2 linked regions of the Homo sapiens genome follow. The protein of the gene in region 1 interacts with the protein of each later gene in a pairwise test. Each region holds a gene or a part of one and is shown on either strand. Other genes may lie near its edges.

Evidence for each region.
Region 2: the proteins of PLEKHH2 (region 1) and PXN interact in binary tests that used the Homo sapiens proteins (3 or more experiments, as listed by UniProt).

Annotation. Positions count from the first base shown.
Region 1 is NC_000002.12:43,695,500-43,703,504, forward strand, and holds part of PLEKHH2 (pleckstrin homology domain-containing family H member 2), read left to right. Parts: intron 1-1,671; coding exon 1,672-1,857; intron 1,858-4,147; coding exon 4,148-5,109; intron 5,110-5,510; exon of another isoform or gene 5,511-5,582; intron 5,583-8,005. UniProt on the Homo sapiens protein: In the kidney glomerulus may play a role in linking podocyte foot processes to the glomerular basement membrane. May be involved in stabilization of F-actin by attenuating its depolymerization. Can recruit TGFB1I1 from focal adhesions to podocyte lamellipodia.
Region 2 is NC_000012.12:120,255,217-120,263,221, reverse strand, and holds part of PXN (paxillin), read left to right. Parts: intron 1-8,005. UniProt on the Homo sapiens protein: Cytoskeletal protein involved in actin-membrane attachment at sites of cell adhesion to the extracellular matrix (focal adhesion). Recruits other proteins such as TRIM15 to focal adhesion.

The sequences.
Region 1 (8,005 bases):
ATTCTAAAAGACCTTCCATTGGTACACTTTTTAGAACCAAACTAAGTTCCAGAGAGTCCAGCTTGCTAAAAGTACTGTACAGAGACATTAGCCTGGGAGGTCAGACATATGGATGATGGGTACCAATCTCTAATGGTAAGGACATTTTGCTCCTTCTAAGTGATGTAGTTCTGTATCTCCCTGTTTTCTTGAAAGAACACAGGGGACTTTACCACACAAGATAGTGAGTTAGAGGTAGTTGTATCAGAGAGACATGCACTCCAGAAGTCCAAGAAGACTTGAATTTTGGCCTTAGAGAATAGACCTTTTAATGGAGATTAGGGGAGTCACAGATACCATACATTTGTAGCTGCATTGAACACTTTGGAGGAGGTTTCTTGGCATCACACATGCTGAACACATTATTGAACTTGGCATTAATTGAGGGTAGCTCTGAGGCACTTCCATGTGTTCTTAGATGCCTGAGCTGGTGGTTACTTGCATGCAAATGTCATAACTCAGTTCGTTCATGGATCACCAGTGTTCTAATCCTTTCCCCATATGGATCTTCTAGATGAGGGTTTGAATCCAGTCAGTTAGGAGAATCAATTGATAATCCGCTGATAAACTCAAGAATATCAGTGGTGAGATTGGTCTATTTAAAAAAAACATATATCTCCAAAATTATTTATAACTTTTGGCTGGGCCACTGGGCCAGGCGCAGTGGCTCACTCCTGTAATCCCAGCATTTTGGGAGGCCAAGGTGAGAGGACTGCTTGAGGCCAGGAGTTTGAGACCAGCCTTGGCAATATAGTGAGACCCCATCGCTACAAAAAAAGTTTTTTTTAATTAGCTGGCCATGGTGGCACACACCTATACTCTCAGCTACTTGGGGGCTGGTTAGGGAGGTGAGGTGGGAGGATCACTTGAGCCCGGGAGTTTGGGGCTGCAGTGAGCCATGATCATGCCACTGTACTCCAGCCTGGGCAACAAAGAGACACCCTGTCTCAAAAAAAAAAAAAAAAGTCCAAGAGATGAATTAAATTCATGATTAGATGCTGACCTAATCACTTCACTACCTGTATAAATTCTTTACTCACCTCCTCTTTTTTTTTCTCTTTAAAGAAGTGATTAAAGCTCTTTATATTGTGGTTACCATAGACCCAACCTCCCCATCTACTTTTTTCTCATGGCTGAAAACTAAGATAAGCAAAAGTCATTACAGTTATCATGGGATGGTTGCCCCAAGGATGATCCAAGTTTCTTTGGTTATTTCGGCAACCAGGACCTCAGTTTCTTTTTCTTCACAGTGGCATACTGTGCAAATTTTACCAACGCTGAACTGGTATTTGTCAATACTTGACTTTGCAGGAAGCTAGAGCTCTCTAGTTATTTATAATCTGTTTGTGTTTTGTCGTTGCTTAGAACTAACTACTCTTAAAGGGATTAGATATTTTTCTTTCTCCAGTTAAAAATATTTTGAACATTCAAAATATGTAAAACAGAATTTAAACATTGGGATGTGATGCTTGTCATTGAAGGTTCTATGTTATTGTACATCAATAAAGATGAACTTTAGGCTTTTTTTCTGGCATAAAGAGTGATTTGTTCAAGTTTTTATATGCCTTGGTTCTATGTTTAACAAACTTCTATAAAAAATTCAAATCTTAATTTTGATTAACGATGTTGTAGAAGTTCAAGGAAAGAAGTCATCCACTGTCTCTACACTAAAGCTTTCGGAAGGCCAGCGCCTGAGCAGTTTGACCTTTGGGTGCTTTTTATCTCGAGCAAGGAGTCCTCCTCAAGTAGTAAAATCTGAGGAAATGAGCAAGATATCATCGAAAGAACCTGAGTTCACTGAAGGAAAAGACATGGAAGGTATTTATGAACTACAGGAATTGACTTTGGCATTTTTTAAAAAGGAAGACTCATTTGCTAAGATTAATCCAAATATAGCTTAATTTTCCTTATTTTTTTCTGACAATTTGATGTTTTATGAGAATGTTTCTAAAGAGCAATACAACATTTAACTTTGTGTGTCTAATTATTTTGTGTTTTCTGAGAGCCTTTGCATAGGAGAAACTGATTTTTCCTTCGTAATATATTTTTCCTGCTGTAGGTGGAAGGTGGGTATTTAAAATTAAAAAGTTTACTGTCCCATCTGCAAGATGCTGTACTTGTTTTAGCTGAGTTTCAGATTAGAACTGTGAATTTCCTATTCATTATTTATTTAAAATATAAAACATTACTTAATATTACACATAAAACATTATTTAAAATATAAAACATTACTTAATATTACACATGAAATTAAACATTGGCATAGCAAACTTCTAAAGAAAAAAACCCTAGGGGATAAATTGATAACTCTTTGATTTTCCTTTAATCCTTCCAAGAGGAAAATGTTTTCCTAGATATTTAAACCCTGGTCCTGTATACAGATTTCTACTCTTCTTCTTTTAGTCTTGAAGTGCTTCTATCAAAAAAAAAGAAAAAATCCATCTAAATTTTGCTTTGTTGTAGCTGTTGGCTTTGCCACCTCTAGCACAATCACTTTTGTTGACTTTCCCCAAATATTTTAGAGAGGCCTGAGTTTTCATCCTCTCTACTTTCAGCTCCAACTTCCTTCCCCCAGAAGAGAAAAAGTATAACAGTAAAAGTTGTCTCTATGCTTGGTTATGAAATTCTGAAAATGATACATTTTCCAATCCGAAGGCTCCTTTGCTCCTTGCTTTCATGCCATTACTCGCTTTGCTCTTCTCTTCTCTCTCTCTTTTTTTTTTTTTTGAGACAGGATCTCACTCTGTCTCCCAGGCCGGAGTGCAGTGGCACGATCACAGCTCACTGCGGCCTTGACCTCCCAGACTCAAGTGATCCTCCCACCTCAGCATCCCTAGTAGCCAGGACTATAGACACATGCCACCATGCCTAGTTAATTTTTGTATTTTTTGTAGAGATGGGGTTTCACCATGTTGCTCAGGCTGGCCTTGAGCTCCTGGGCTCAAGCAATCTGCCAGCCTTGGCCTCCCAAAAGTGCTGGATTTACCGGTGTGAGCCACTGCACCCGGCCTACTTGCATCTTTTTTTTGCCTTTTGAGAAGCCATTTTCATTTCCTTCCCTTTTTCTAATAGTGGAGTACAGCTGAGATTGCTTGTACTGATGCTCTTGCTCATTTGCAAATTTAACAAACTTCCTAATACCGAATTTTAGAGTTTATTTGTTCAGCCTCTAGTTCCTTAATTATGAAGGTCCTGTCTATGTTTTCATGTTTTCAAAGTTTCTTTTCTACACTTCAGTCTAAAAGTTTAATTCCTTGTTTATGAAGCCAATGGTTCATTCTGTTAATTATGTTATACATAAAAATAAACCATATCTAAAGATATTTTTAAAGAGTGTTATTCTTATTATAAAAACACATTTTGTAGTTATGATTAAACCAAAAGTAGAGCAAGGAAAGCTTTTCTGTGTTTATATTTTCTTCATGATTTTGCATATCTCAATGTATCGAAGTTTGGTGCAAGGTCTGTTTATTAAACTATAGCTTTGTATTTATTATGCTTAAATTTACTTCATTATAATCTAAATATTTAGTTGAAAGGAGGTGTCATTTTCTTTCCTTCTAAAATAGAATTCATGCTGTTCATTTTTTTGGTGACTGCTTTCTTTGATAGTGAAAGTTGCCCTGTTTCACATTTTGCTTCTTTTATTATCTCTCTTTAGACTCTCAGTTTTTTTTTTCCCAACATGTTTTTTTGTAAAAACCAATTTGGAAACTATTATATTGACATGTTAGGGCTCTGAGTTTTATATAAAGCTTATAGTTTTCAAAAACTTGTGTTTAAAAAAGACATAAGACTAACACAGGATAATGTAAATTATTTGTATGAAATTTTTGGTTTATTCCTTTAAAAAAAATAGAGGCAGGGTCTTGCTCTGTCACCCAGGCTGGAGTGCAGTGGCTGATCATAGCTCACTGCAGACTTCAGCTCCTGGGCTCAAGCAATCATCCTGCCTCAGCCTCCCAAGTAGCTGGGACTACAGGTACACACCACTGCACCCAGCAAATTTCTACAGTGTCAATTTCTACAGTGTAGCTACATAAAGCTAAATGTACAGAAAGATTATATTCTTAAAGGCAGCATGCTGATATGATGTATCCTTTTCTAGAAATGGAAATTCCAGAAAAGTCTGTTGATAACCAAGTTCTAGAAAACAACAGAGGCCAGAGAACATTGCATCAAACCCCTTGTGGCTCAGAACAGAATCGGAAAACAAGAACAAGCTTTGCCACAGATGGTGGCATCTCCCAGAATTCTGGGGCTCCTGTGAGTGACTGGAGCTCTGATGAGGAAGACGGGAGCAAAGGAAGATCCAAGTCCAGATGCACATCCACCCTCTCCAGTCACACATCTGAGGAAGGGGTCCAGTGTAGCAGGATGGGAAGTGAAATGTATCTGACAGCATCTGATGACAGCAGCTCTATATTTGAGGAAGAGACTTTTGGCATAAAGAGACCAGAACACAAGAAGCTATATTCTTGGCAGCAGGAGGCACAGTGGAAAGCTCTAAATAGTCCTCTTGGAAAGGGAAATTCTGAATTAAGTAAAAAGGAACAAGATAGTTCCTCGGATGAACTGAATAAAAAATTTCAATCCCAGAGACTCGATTATTCATCTTCATCGAGTGAAGCCAACACCCCAAGCCCTATTTTGACCCCAGCTTTAATGCCAAAGCATCCTAACTCACTCTCTGGAAAAGGAACACAATTAGTGCCTTCATCACACCTGCCACCCCCAAAGTTAAGGATTCCTAATGTTTTCAGTATAAGTGTAGCACTAGCCAAAAGGCACTTAAGCCAGCCACAGTTAAGCTCTGACAGGATGTTTGGTACAAATAGAAACGCTATAAGCATGATACGACCACTGAGACCTCAGGAAACTGATCTTGATCTAGTTGATGGAGACAGTACAGAAGTTTTAGAGAATATGGACACGAGTTGTGATGATGGATTATTTTCCTATGACTCCTTGGACTCTCCAAATTCAGATGACCAGGAACACTGTGACTCAGCAAAGAAGGTGGCATACAGCAAACCTCCAACTCCTCCCCTGCACCGTTTTCCTTCTTGGGTAATTATATCACCGCATGTAACACATACGCAGTAGTTTTTTTCTCAACACTTTTTTTTTCTGGGAGGGAGTCTCGCTCTGTCGCCCAAGCTGGAGTGCAGTGGCGCGATCTTGGCTCACTGCAACCTCCATCTCCCGGGTTCAAGTGATTCTCCTGCCTCAGCCTCCTGAGTAGCTGATACAGGCATGCACTACCATGCCTGGCTAATTTTTGTATTTTTGGTAGAGACGGGGTTTCGCCATGTTGGCCAGGCTGGTCTTGAACTCCTGACCTCAAGTGATCCACCTGCCTTTGCCTCCCAAAGTGTCCACACTCATTTTCAAGTTTTACTTTTTCTTTTCTTCTTTCCTTTCAAATCCAGCTTTGTTCTGACGTTTTCCAGTTTTTAGGATAAAATTTCTTCTTCTCTTCCCTCACTGAGTTCTGAATCAATTGAGAAATAAGATAATGACAAGACAGATGGGAGATCAAGGTATTACCTTATTTACTGATAAAACTAATTTTAGAGAATTAGTGGGCAAATGAGCTTTCTAATACTGAACTTTGAGATTAGCTGGATTGAGTCACCTGTTCCCAGGAAGCCCTGGACCACCACAGGATTCTGCTACTGAAGCCATGCCCCTCTAAAACTTACTACCTCAAAAAACAGAACAGATGGTTGTTTCCTGCAGGCAGCTACTTCTCAAGAGAAAGGGGAGAGGAAGTTGCCAGGCTCTGCATGCCCAGTTTCTCCTTCTCAGCTTACCAATCACATTAAGCCACTCTTCCTCTTGGGGAGGGGAAAGTGAATAGGTGGAGAGGGATCAGCAGTGTTCAATTACTGGAGGTTCCTCCATGTGGAAGGAAACATTGGAGGTGGGAAAGAAGGGTTCCCCCTAACTGTGATATTTTGGGTGAATTCTGAACCGGGACACTTAACTCTTGTTAGTTATAAGTTTTTGAACTTAGTCGTTATTTGATTGGCTTTAAGATAAATTTAATTTTCTTTTTGAGCTTATATAGCCATTGGTTTCCAAAGTATCTTTCTACAGACCTAGAATAGATAAAATCTTCTTCCATTGAAACATTGACCATTAGTAGGATAACACTGCTAGACTAAAAAAAAAAAAAAATTCTTCCAATATTTGAAATAAAATGAAATGATCTGTTTAATTTTAATTTTTTTTTTTTTTTTTGAGATGAAGTTTCACTCTTGTCTCCCGGGCTAGAGTGCAATGGCGCCATCTCAGCTCACTGCAACCTCTGCCACCTGGGTTCAGGCAATTCTCCTGCCTTAGCCTCCCAAGTAGCTGGAACTACAGACGTTTACCACCACACCTGGCTAATTTTTTGTATTTTTAGTAGAGGTGGGGTTTCACCATGTTGGCCAGGCTGGTCTTGAATGCCTGACTTCAGGTGATCCACCCACCTCAGCCTCCCAAAGTGCTGGGATTACAGGCGTGTCACGCCACTGCACCTGGTCTGAAATGATCTGTTATAGATTTAAGTTTTTCTTCACATGCTGGCATAATTTAACCTTTGGCCTCCAGAGAAACATCTGGGTTGCAGGACTCTTTTGGTTTTTGGAGTCATGTTCTTTTATTACTATATTTTTTATTTTGTGACTGATGCAGTTTTAAGCAAATTAGGGTGGACATGTTTTTCTAATATAAATTCAGAACTTAAGATGTATGTGCTCTTATTTGCTTTCAAGAGGACATTTTATTTCAATATCCACATGAAACCTTCTGTAGTTTATTACTAAATTTTGGATAGCACAGGAAAGTGGAAGTTAATGGCATGTGAATCTCTGGAATTCTAATTATGTTATACTTTAGGCAGCAAGAAATTGAAATTTTGCCTATCTTATGATGTTGAGATTTTCAGAGATTTAGGTTAGGCTTTTAAGTTCGTTTTATTTGGCAACCCATTCTACTACTTTTTTTTTTTTTTTTTTTTTTCCATTCTGTCTTCTCTTACTCTTTTGAAGCTATTCGGTCCTGAAAAAGTAGTATTGCTTTTCAAAAGCCTTCCAGCAGACTGGCCAAGTCTGAGATTTTATTTCTGTGTTTATTAGGTATTTTCAGGTTTCAAGGAAAAGAGATGTATTCTAATTGCCTCAATAAATATGAGTTTATTTTAAAAATTTCTAAGAGCTTATTTTAAGGCATAGCCTATCCTTATTGAACTGGAATACCATGCAAATTACAATAGTCACTCTAGAGGGACAACATGTGATAGTCAGCAGTACCTCCGATAGAAACAAGTGACATCCATTGCCCCTGCTCCCAGTGGCTCAGCTTGTCCTCCCAGGCCTCCAGTCCCCTCTCTCTAATTCTACTACTAACCACTTTCCCCCAGTCTCCTAGGGCTTCAGACTGCCTCCCGTCTCCTGCTTACTGCCCTTATTGTTATATGTCTTTCTGTTGCTGTTTGTGTGTGGGTGTATCTCACACTCAAAGAAACTACATCTGATTCACTCAGCCAGGCACTATTCAATCGAAAATGTCCCTGATAGTCGGAGAACTCATGCCAGTTGCCTCTCAAGCCACTGGCTGTCTTGAAGAGGATGGCCTTAGTTGCCCACTGTGTCCTGGACAGTCAACTGTGTCCAAGTTAGACCCATTATTAAATTCAGGACATGTTGCTCTATGCATTAGGAACCACCTGTGGTCCCTTTTCTCAAGGGAGCAGGGCTAGTAACCTGTCCAGTACCTGTTTCAGAGATTTTTCAGAAGAGAAGAGAAAACAAAATAATCTACTTTTGGAACAAGATAATATAAATTCCATTGCAATTCTCATATTCATTTCTTGTTTGACTTTAGGTATCTCTTCTACTTGAGTGAAATGTACATTGACATAGGAAGGCGATAGCATTTAATGCTACTGTATCTATGACTTCTGACTTCAGGTTTT
Region 2 (8,005 bases), on another chromosome or scaffold:
ACACTGCCATCAGCTGTTTTCCTTAGGGTGGCTCAGCTGTTTTCCTTAGGGTGGACACAAAGCCCAGACCTCTTGTTTTTATTTTTCTCCTGAGCGTGCTCTCAGCCGTGTGCCTCCTGGTCCCTAACACAGGGGAGAGTTTATGGTGTGTCCGGTAGCAAGGCCAGAGGGTGCATCACCTCCTCTGTGACTTTGTTTTTTGGTCTAATAAAAAATGGGGAACTCTTCTCCTTCCCATAGTTGCCAATGACAGACTCACCATGTGCTGCTTAATAAGTTACAAATTTATAGCTCTCTGAGCAGAAAAATATCAACACAGCGTGTTCTGCCCTTCCCTGTGTGTTCTCTCCACTTTGTTCTTTGGGGTGGCTGCTTGGTGGCTTTTCTTATTACTGTTTAGATGCTGGTTTGGCCCAGAGTTCGCTCTGTTCAAGTTCTGGCCGGAGTTTCCTGGACAGAGTTCCCACAACACTGAGATGCACTCTGACTGTGTTTTCTAACCCGATTGCTTGCTCTTCCTCTGTTCATGTTCTCAGTGTACTTGGTGGGGGCTTTGACCACAACTGTGGTCTAATCATGATCATGTGCGCTTCATGGGAGACAGGCACTGTACTCAGCACTTTACGAGCTGTATCACAACCTTTCAGAAAGGGAGGTGTTTTCGCTCCACTTTATACATGTGGAAACCTGAGCTCAGGGAAGTTTAGTGGTAGTGCTGGGATTTGAACCCAGGCTCATCCAATTCCAGATCCGGTTATCTTAATCATCATAAGGTGGTAGGTGCTGGTGACTAACCAGGGGGATGAGCCTTGGGGCCTGCTGAGTAATTGATAGTTACCTTTAACAATCTCTGCCCTAGGGGCCCATCCCAGGAAATGGCAAAGGGTGTGTCCAGTGCAAGACTGGGTAGCTTTGCCTTCCCATCCTCTAGCAGGGGGAACAGCCAGCTGTTGGCAGTGCCCAGTTGCTGCTGGAATCTGGACATGTCTTCTTTCAGCTTCTCAGCAGTCTTGACCCTTTGGAAAACAGTGCCTCATTGTCCTTGGGGGTAGTGCTAGGGGGGCAGAGGAGTTGCCTGGGGCATTGGGAGCTATGGAGCCTCCCTGTTTCCATGGAAAGTCTGGACTTTGGGCTTTCCTGTCTGTGGTCCCTCTGTGTGTTAGGGCAGAGTCAGGGCACCCAGCTGCTGGGCGTGTGGCAGAGGCGGCATTTACCCATGCAGCGATAGTGCCCTCCTGGTGGGCTCTGCATCAGTGCCAGACCTTCTCCTGGGCTTGTGCTAGTAAGGGGCAGAGCTGGGATTCAAACCTTGGTGGGTTTGATTCTTCAGCGGGTACACTTTCTGATATGTGAAGCTGTCTGCTGCCTGGGCAGACATAGCTTGATGGAGAAATGCTCAGCCTACTGGAACCCAAAGCCCTGTCACTATAGGTTCAAGGTCTTTTGAGGGAATATCTCAGTATTCCTTTTTTCCAGCTTCCCTAGTGATGGTCATGCATTGAAGAGACTGGGTGTACCCTTGGCTGGAGAGGCTGATGGAAGGCCAGAGTTATTGGTGGGCCACTGAGCAGCCCTCCTCTCCTATTTAGTCATCCTGCTTGGAGTATCTGACTCTGAAGCTTCTCTTGCGTCTTTACCTCGCTCCAGAGATGTTGAATAAACTTCCAGCCTCATTGCAGCCTTTCCGGGGATCATCCTAGTCTCAGTGCCTTCATTAATAATAACAAAATCTGCCGGGCATGGTGGCTCACACCTGTAATCCCAGCACTTTGGGAGGCTGAAGTGGGTGCATCTTTTGAGGTCAGGAGTTCAAGACCAGCCTGGCCAATGTGGTGAAACCCAATCTCTACTAAAAATACAAAAATTAGCTGGGCGTGGTGGCGCGTGCCTGTAGTCTCAGCTACTCAGGAGGCTGAGGCAGGAGAATCGCTTGAACCCGGGAGGCAGAGATTGCAGTAAGCCGAGATCGCATCACTGCACTCTGGCCTAGGGGGTACTTTTCTTTTTTACAGTGTTTACAGAACTTTTTCTCATAATATTTATTGAGCTCTTATTATGTGCAGGCACTGTGCTGGGCACTTTACATGCATTGTTTGCTTGAATCAAGCTGGCCATATGAGGCAGGTTTTATTAGTAGTCGTATTACTACTACCTGTTTTATAAGTGAGGAAACTGAGACACAGAGAGGTGAGCCCACTTGCCCAAGTTCTACAACTAGTGAATGGCAGTGCTAGGATTTGAATCCAGGTGGTCTGGCTGCTGAGCGGGACTTGCAGCCAACTGTTTTGTACACTTTTTTTTGGAGACAGGGTCTGCAGCCTCTGCCTCCCAGGCCCAAGTGTTCCTCTTCCCTCAGCCTCCCGAGTAGCTAGGACTACAGGCATATGCCGTAACGCCCCGCTAATTTTTGAAATTTTTTGTGGAGACAGGGTTTCACCATGTTTCCCAGGCTGTTCTTGAACACCTGGCCTCAAGCAATGTGCCTGCATCAACCTCCCAAAATGCTGGGATTACAGGCATGAGCCATTGTGCCTGGTGCATTCTTTACACTTCTGTTCATAATACTGCATCTGATATGGGTTGCCCATTGGTTTGACTGTTTTCTGTTTCTAGGACACTAACATTTTTCTGCACCCACCCTATTCTCTGTTGTCTTCCACATCTGTCATTTCCCTGTTCTCTGCAGCTTCTTGTCTGTCTTTTGTTCTTTTTTTTTTTTTTCCTGAGTTTCACTCTTATTGCCCAGGCTGGAGGGCAATGGCATGATCTCGGCTCACCACAACCTCCACCTCCCAGGTTCAAGCGATTCTCCTGCCTCAGTCCCCCAAGTAGCTGGGGGCATGAGCCACCATGCCCAGCTAATTTTGTATTTTTAGTAGAGACGGAGTTTCTCCATGTTGGTCAGGCTGGTCTCGAACTCCCGACTTCAGGTGATCCACCCGCCTCGGCCTCCCAAAGTGTTGGCATTACAGGCGTGAGCCACTGCACCCGGCCTTTTTGTTCTTTCTTGGGGACACACACTCAGGATGGGATGCAGGGTCCTGGGGGGAGTGTCTCCTGTTCCAGGGGAGGCCCCAATCCTCCCTCCCTGGTCACCTCTCCAGTCACCTGTTACTCTTGAGACAGAGCAGTGAGCTTACAGCACCACTGCCAAGGAGAACCTGGGGCAGGTCCCCTGTGGTCCCTTGCCACCTCCTCTGCTCAGGAATCAGAAGCCTTCCTGTGCCCCCAGCCCCGCTGCACCCGAACATGCTCCTTGTCTTTCCCGTATCCAGAGGAGGGAGTTGTTGAAAACTTTATGGTGGAGAATGAAGGATGTCCTATGGGAGGGGGAGAGGAAGAGAGAATCAGGAAGCTGAGTTTTCTCAGAAATGTTCACAAAGCAAGTCATGGAAATGGCTTCAGGGTGCCCTCCTCACCTGGGATGGGCCCTGAGACTCCATCGACAGCCTCACGGGGTCCACTCTGCCTTTTGCAGTCTGGGTCTTGTTGGGAGTCTCATATCTGGCCTTGAGTGTACATTCATACCCTGATAAGTCTTCCAACTAACTAACCGATTGCCTAACCAGTGGTGCTCAGGGCTGGCCTCTCCAGGGAGGCCTTGGATGCTGGGCCAGTGGTAGACAGAACATGCGGTTGGCCAGGCCCAGTGGAACCCCAGTGGCCAAATCTTCCCTTAAAGACGGACTTTTAATGCTTATTTCTTGTGTGATTGTGGTATTGTGGTTTTATGGGAGAATATTGTTATTGTTAGGTGCATGCTAAAGTATTTAGGAGTGAAGTGTCATGATGTCTTGCAACTTATTTTTATTTTTTCATTTTTTATTTTTGAGGCAGAGTCTTGCCCTGTCACCCAGGCTGGAGTGCAGCAGCGCGATCTTGGCTCACTGCAACCTCCGCCTCCTGGGCTTAAGCAATTCTCCTGTCTCAGCCTCCTGAGTAGCTGGGACTATGGGTGCATGCCACCACACCCGGCTAATTTTTGTATTTTTAGTAGAGGTGGGGTTTCACCATATTGTTTAGGCTGGTCTTCAACTCCTGACCTCAGGTGATCCACCTGCCTCAGCCTCCCAAAGTGCTGGGATTACAGGTGTGAGCTACCCCACCTGGCCTCAACTTAGTTTTATTTGTTTTTTTTTGTTTGTTTGTTTTGAGGCAGAGTTTTGCTCTTGTTGCCCAGGCTGGAGTGCAGTGGCACCATCTCAGCTCACTACAACCTCTGCCTCCTGGGTTCAAGCGATTCTGCTGCCTCAGTCTCCCGAGTAGCTGGGATTACAGGCATGCACCACCACGCCTGGCTAATTTTTTTATTTTTAGTAGAAACCAGGTTTCTCCATGTTGGTCAGGCTGGTCAGGCTGGTCTCAAACTCCCGACCTCAGGTGATCCACCCACCTCGGCCTCCCAAAGTGCTGAGATTACAGGTGTGAGCCACTGCACCCAGCTCAACTTAGTTTTAAATGATATAATGAAAAAAAGGATATACACATAAAGGGCAGAGAGCACAAGGGCCATGCGTTTACACAAAGTGGTAAAACAATGACAGCCATTCAATCTAAGTGAGAGTACCCGGGCCTCTCAACTTCTCTGTGTGCTTAGACATTTTTATAATGAAAAGTTGGAGAAAAGTAAGGAAACCCTGCTTTTCCATGATGGGCTTGGAGTTGTTGGGCCTAGGTGCTGGCCTGCGCCTGCCTATGGTTGGCCTGAATGACTGCTGGTCTCCTGTGATTGAGCAGGTGGTGGGAAGACTGGGTGAGCAGAGACAGTAGCTGGGGGGGCCTCAGGTGACAGTGACTGCTGACTATCATCTGGGAAATGGGGAGCACAGTGCTGTGACCTGTGCAGAAAAAAGACAGGCCCAGAGACAGTGTGTGTCCATAGGTGTGGAGGCAGCCTCATGAGTTATTTGAGCATGATGACATTAATCAGACCAGGGTTGAAGCATGTGAGATGCCGAACTCTGGTTGGAGTTTGAGATGGGTTGTCTAGGCTGATGGGATGCAGAGCAAGACTTTTTTTTTTTTTTTTGAGACGGAGTCTTACTCTGTCACCCAGGCTGGAGTGCAATGGTGTGATCTTGGCTCACTGCAACCTCTGCCTCCCAGGTTCAAGTGATTCTTGTGCCTCAGCCTCCGCAGTAGCTAGGATTATGGGCGTGCGTCATCACGCCTGACTAATTTTTGTAATTTTAGTAGAGATGGGGTTTCACCATGTTGGCCAGCCTGGTCTCGAACTCCTGACCTCAGGTGATCCGCCCGCCTTGGCCTCCCAAAGTGCTGGGATTACAGGTGTGAGCCACGGTGCCCAGCCACAGCAAGGCTTTACATAATTCAGGGAACGGTCTCTGGGCAGCTTGAGGCCTGTGGGCGGGGAGGAGATGTCTTTTGCCTCACATCATGAACCCCTTATCTGTGGCCAGTGGAACACCATTAACCTGTGGGCAGTGATGGCTGAGTGTCCCCAGGCTTTTGCTTATAGCTCAAGTCTGACCATCCAGTTTTCCAGCCTTCAGGCTCCCCCTCCTGGAATCCCCACTCCCTTGGTCCCTCCTGTCTAGTTTGTGCTGACTCAAAGCTGGCCCTCTTGGACCTCCAGTCTGTTTTGGGGAAATAGCTGGATTCTGGCACCAGTGGCCCTCTTGGCTCTGAGGCAGAGGTGAGGGCCCTGGTGCCTACTAGAAACATTTCGGGCAGCCAGCAGGCTCTCATGAGGGGAGGGCTTCATGCCAAGGTCTTCTTTCAGCCTCATGTCATCTATGTCAGCGTGCAGAGATGCCGAGGCTGGCCACTTGGCGAGGACTATGAGGTCTTCTAGCGAGGGCTCAGAGCTTCACTCTGCCTATTTGAAAGCAGCATGATGTGTGTTTTATGGGGGAGGGGGTGATGCTGGGAGGAAGCTTTATGTAATTCTTGGCTGGAGCTCAGGTAATTGTTTTAATGAAATGGAATGCAGCTTATTCAGAATTCGCTTGGCAGAAACAGCCATGTTCTGTTCTGTTTTCTTGTTGGGGAGAGCAGGGCACACATTTCCAGCTGTTTTGAATCGTAGAACTCTGGGTGAGCTGGAGCAAGGGGGGTGGAACCCTCCAGGGAGCTCCAGGGAGCTTCAGGCCGATTCTCTTCTGGATCCCGGTCTGTGTGTATTGTTTTGAATGAGCCTTGGAGACTTTGGCCTCTTCTAAAACATAAAAACCCTACTGAGGCCAGGCGCGGTGGCTCATGCCTGTAATCCCAGCCTTGGGAGGCTGAGGCAGGTGGAACACCTGAGGCCTGAAGTTGGGAGTTCGAGACCAGCTTGACCAACATGGAGAAACCCCATCTCTACTAAAATACAAAATTAGCTGGGCGTGGTGGCGCATGCTTGTAATCCCAGCTACTCGGGAGGCTGAGGCAGGAGAATTCCTTGAACCTGGGAGGCGGAGGTTGCGGTGAGCCAAGATCAGGCCACTGCACTCCAGCCTGGGTGACAGAGCGAGATTCCGTCTCAAAAACAACAACAACAACAAAAAAAAACCCTATTGAAAGCAGGCTATGAAATGGGTGTAATGCCTGCCTTCCACATTGTTGGGAGACTGAGTGAGGTGCTTAGCACATAGTAGACAGATCCTCAAGGATGGCCTCTATTTGCTCACGCTTTACTCCACCCCCCACGTCCCCATCTTTCTACCCCCTTTTATACCTCATGGTCATCATCTTCTGTCAGTGTAGATGGCTGTGGCCCCATGTGGCCCCGATGTCCCCATCTGCAGGTCCACCTGGCTCTCCTTTTTCTTCTGGTTCCGTTTTTCTCCTCTCCTTCTCTTCTCTTCTTTCTCTTTTCTCACAGGGTCTTGTTCTCTTGCCCAGGATGAAGTACAGTGATCTGATCACAGCTCACTGTAACCTCCAACTCAAGCGATCCTCCTGCCCTCAGCCTCCTGAGCAGCTGGGACTACAGGCACGTGCCACCATGCCTGGCCAATTTTTTATTTTTTATACAGCCGGAGTCTCATTATGTTTCTCAGGCTGGTCTCGAACTCCTGGCCTCAAGCAATCCTTCTGCCTTGGCTTTCCAAAGTGCTGGTATTATAAGTGTGAGCCACCATGTGTCTTGCCTGTTTCCCTCTTTTTACTTTTCTGCTTTTACTAACTTCAGTTTTTTGTTTTGTTTTTTAGAGAGTCTTGCTCTGCCGCCCAGAATGGAGTACAGTGGCATGATCTTGGCTCACTGCAACCTCTGTCTCCCAGGGTCAAGCGATCCTCCTGCCTCCGCCCCACCCCCCCCAACCCCCCGCAGTCCGCAGTAGCTGAGATTACAGGCACACACCACCATACCTGGCTAATTTTGTATTTTTGGTAGAGATGGGGTTTCGTTTGCCATGTTGGCCAGGCTGGTCTCGAACTCCTGAGCTCAGGTAATCCGCCCACCTCGGCCTCCCAAAGTGTTGGAATTACAGATGTGAGCCATTGTGCCTGACCTGCACTTACTAACTTTTTTACTTTGCTCCTTTTTATTTTATTTATTTTTAAATTTATTATTATCTTTTTTGAGACAGAGTCTTTCTCTGTCACCCAGGCTGGAGTGCAGTGGCATGATCTTGGCTCACTGCAACCTCCGCCTCCCGGGTTCAAGTGATTCTTCTGCCTCAGCCTCCTGAGTAGCTGGGACTACAGGCGCCCGCCACCATGCCCAGCTAATTTTTGTGGTTTTAGTAGAGATGGGGTTTCACCATAGTGGCCAGGCTGGTCTTGAACTCTTGACCTTGTGATCTGCCTGCCTCGGTCTCCCAGTGCTGGGATTACAGGTGTGAGCCACCGCGCCCGGCCTGTTCCTTTTTAAATTTTAACACAGTCTGACCCATTCTTCCACGTTTGCTCTTTTGCTGAGACACCTGTCTCACCCTTTAGCTGCATATTTTTTTCTCCCTTCCTTAAGCTCCGCTTGCTTCTCCAGAGACCCTCCCACCTTCTTTTCCCAAGTCTCCTCTGATCCCTGAGTGGAGGTGCACCTGGGTGTTTTCCCAAA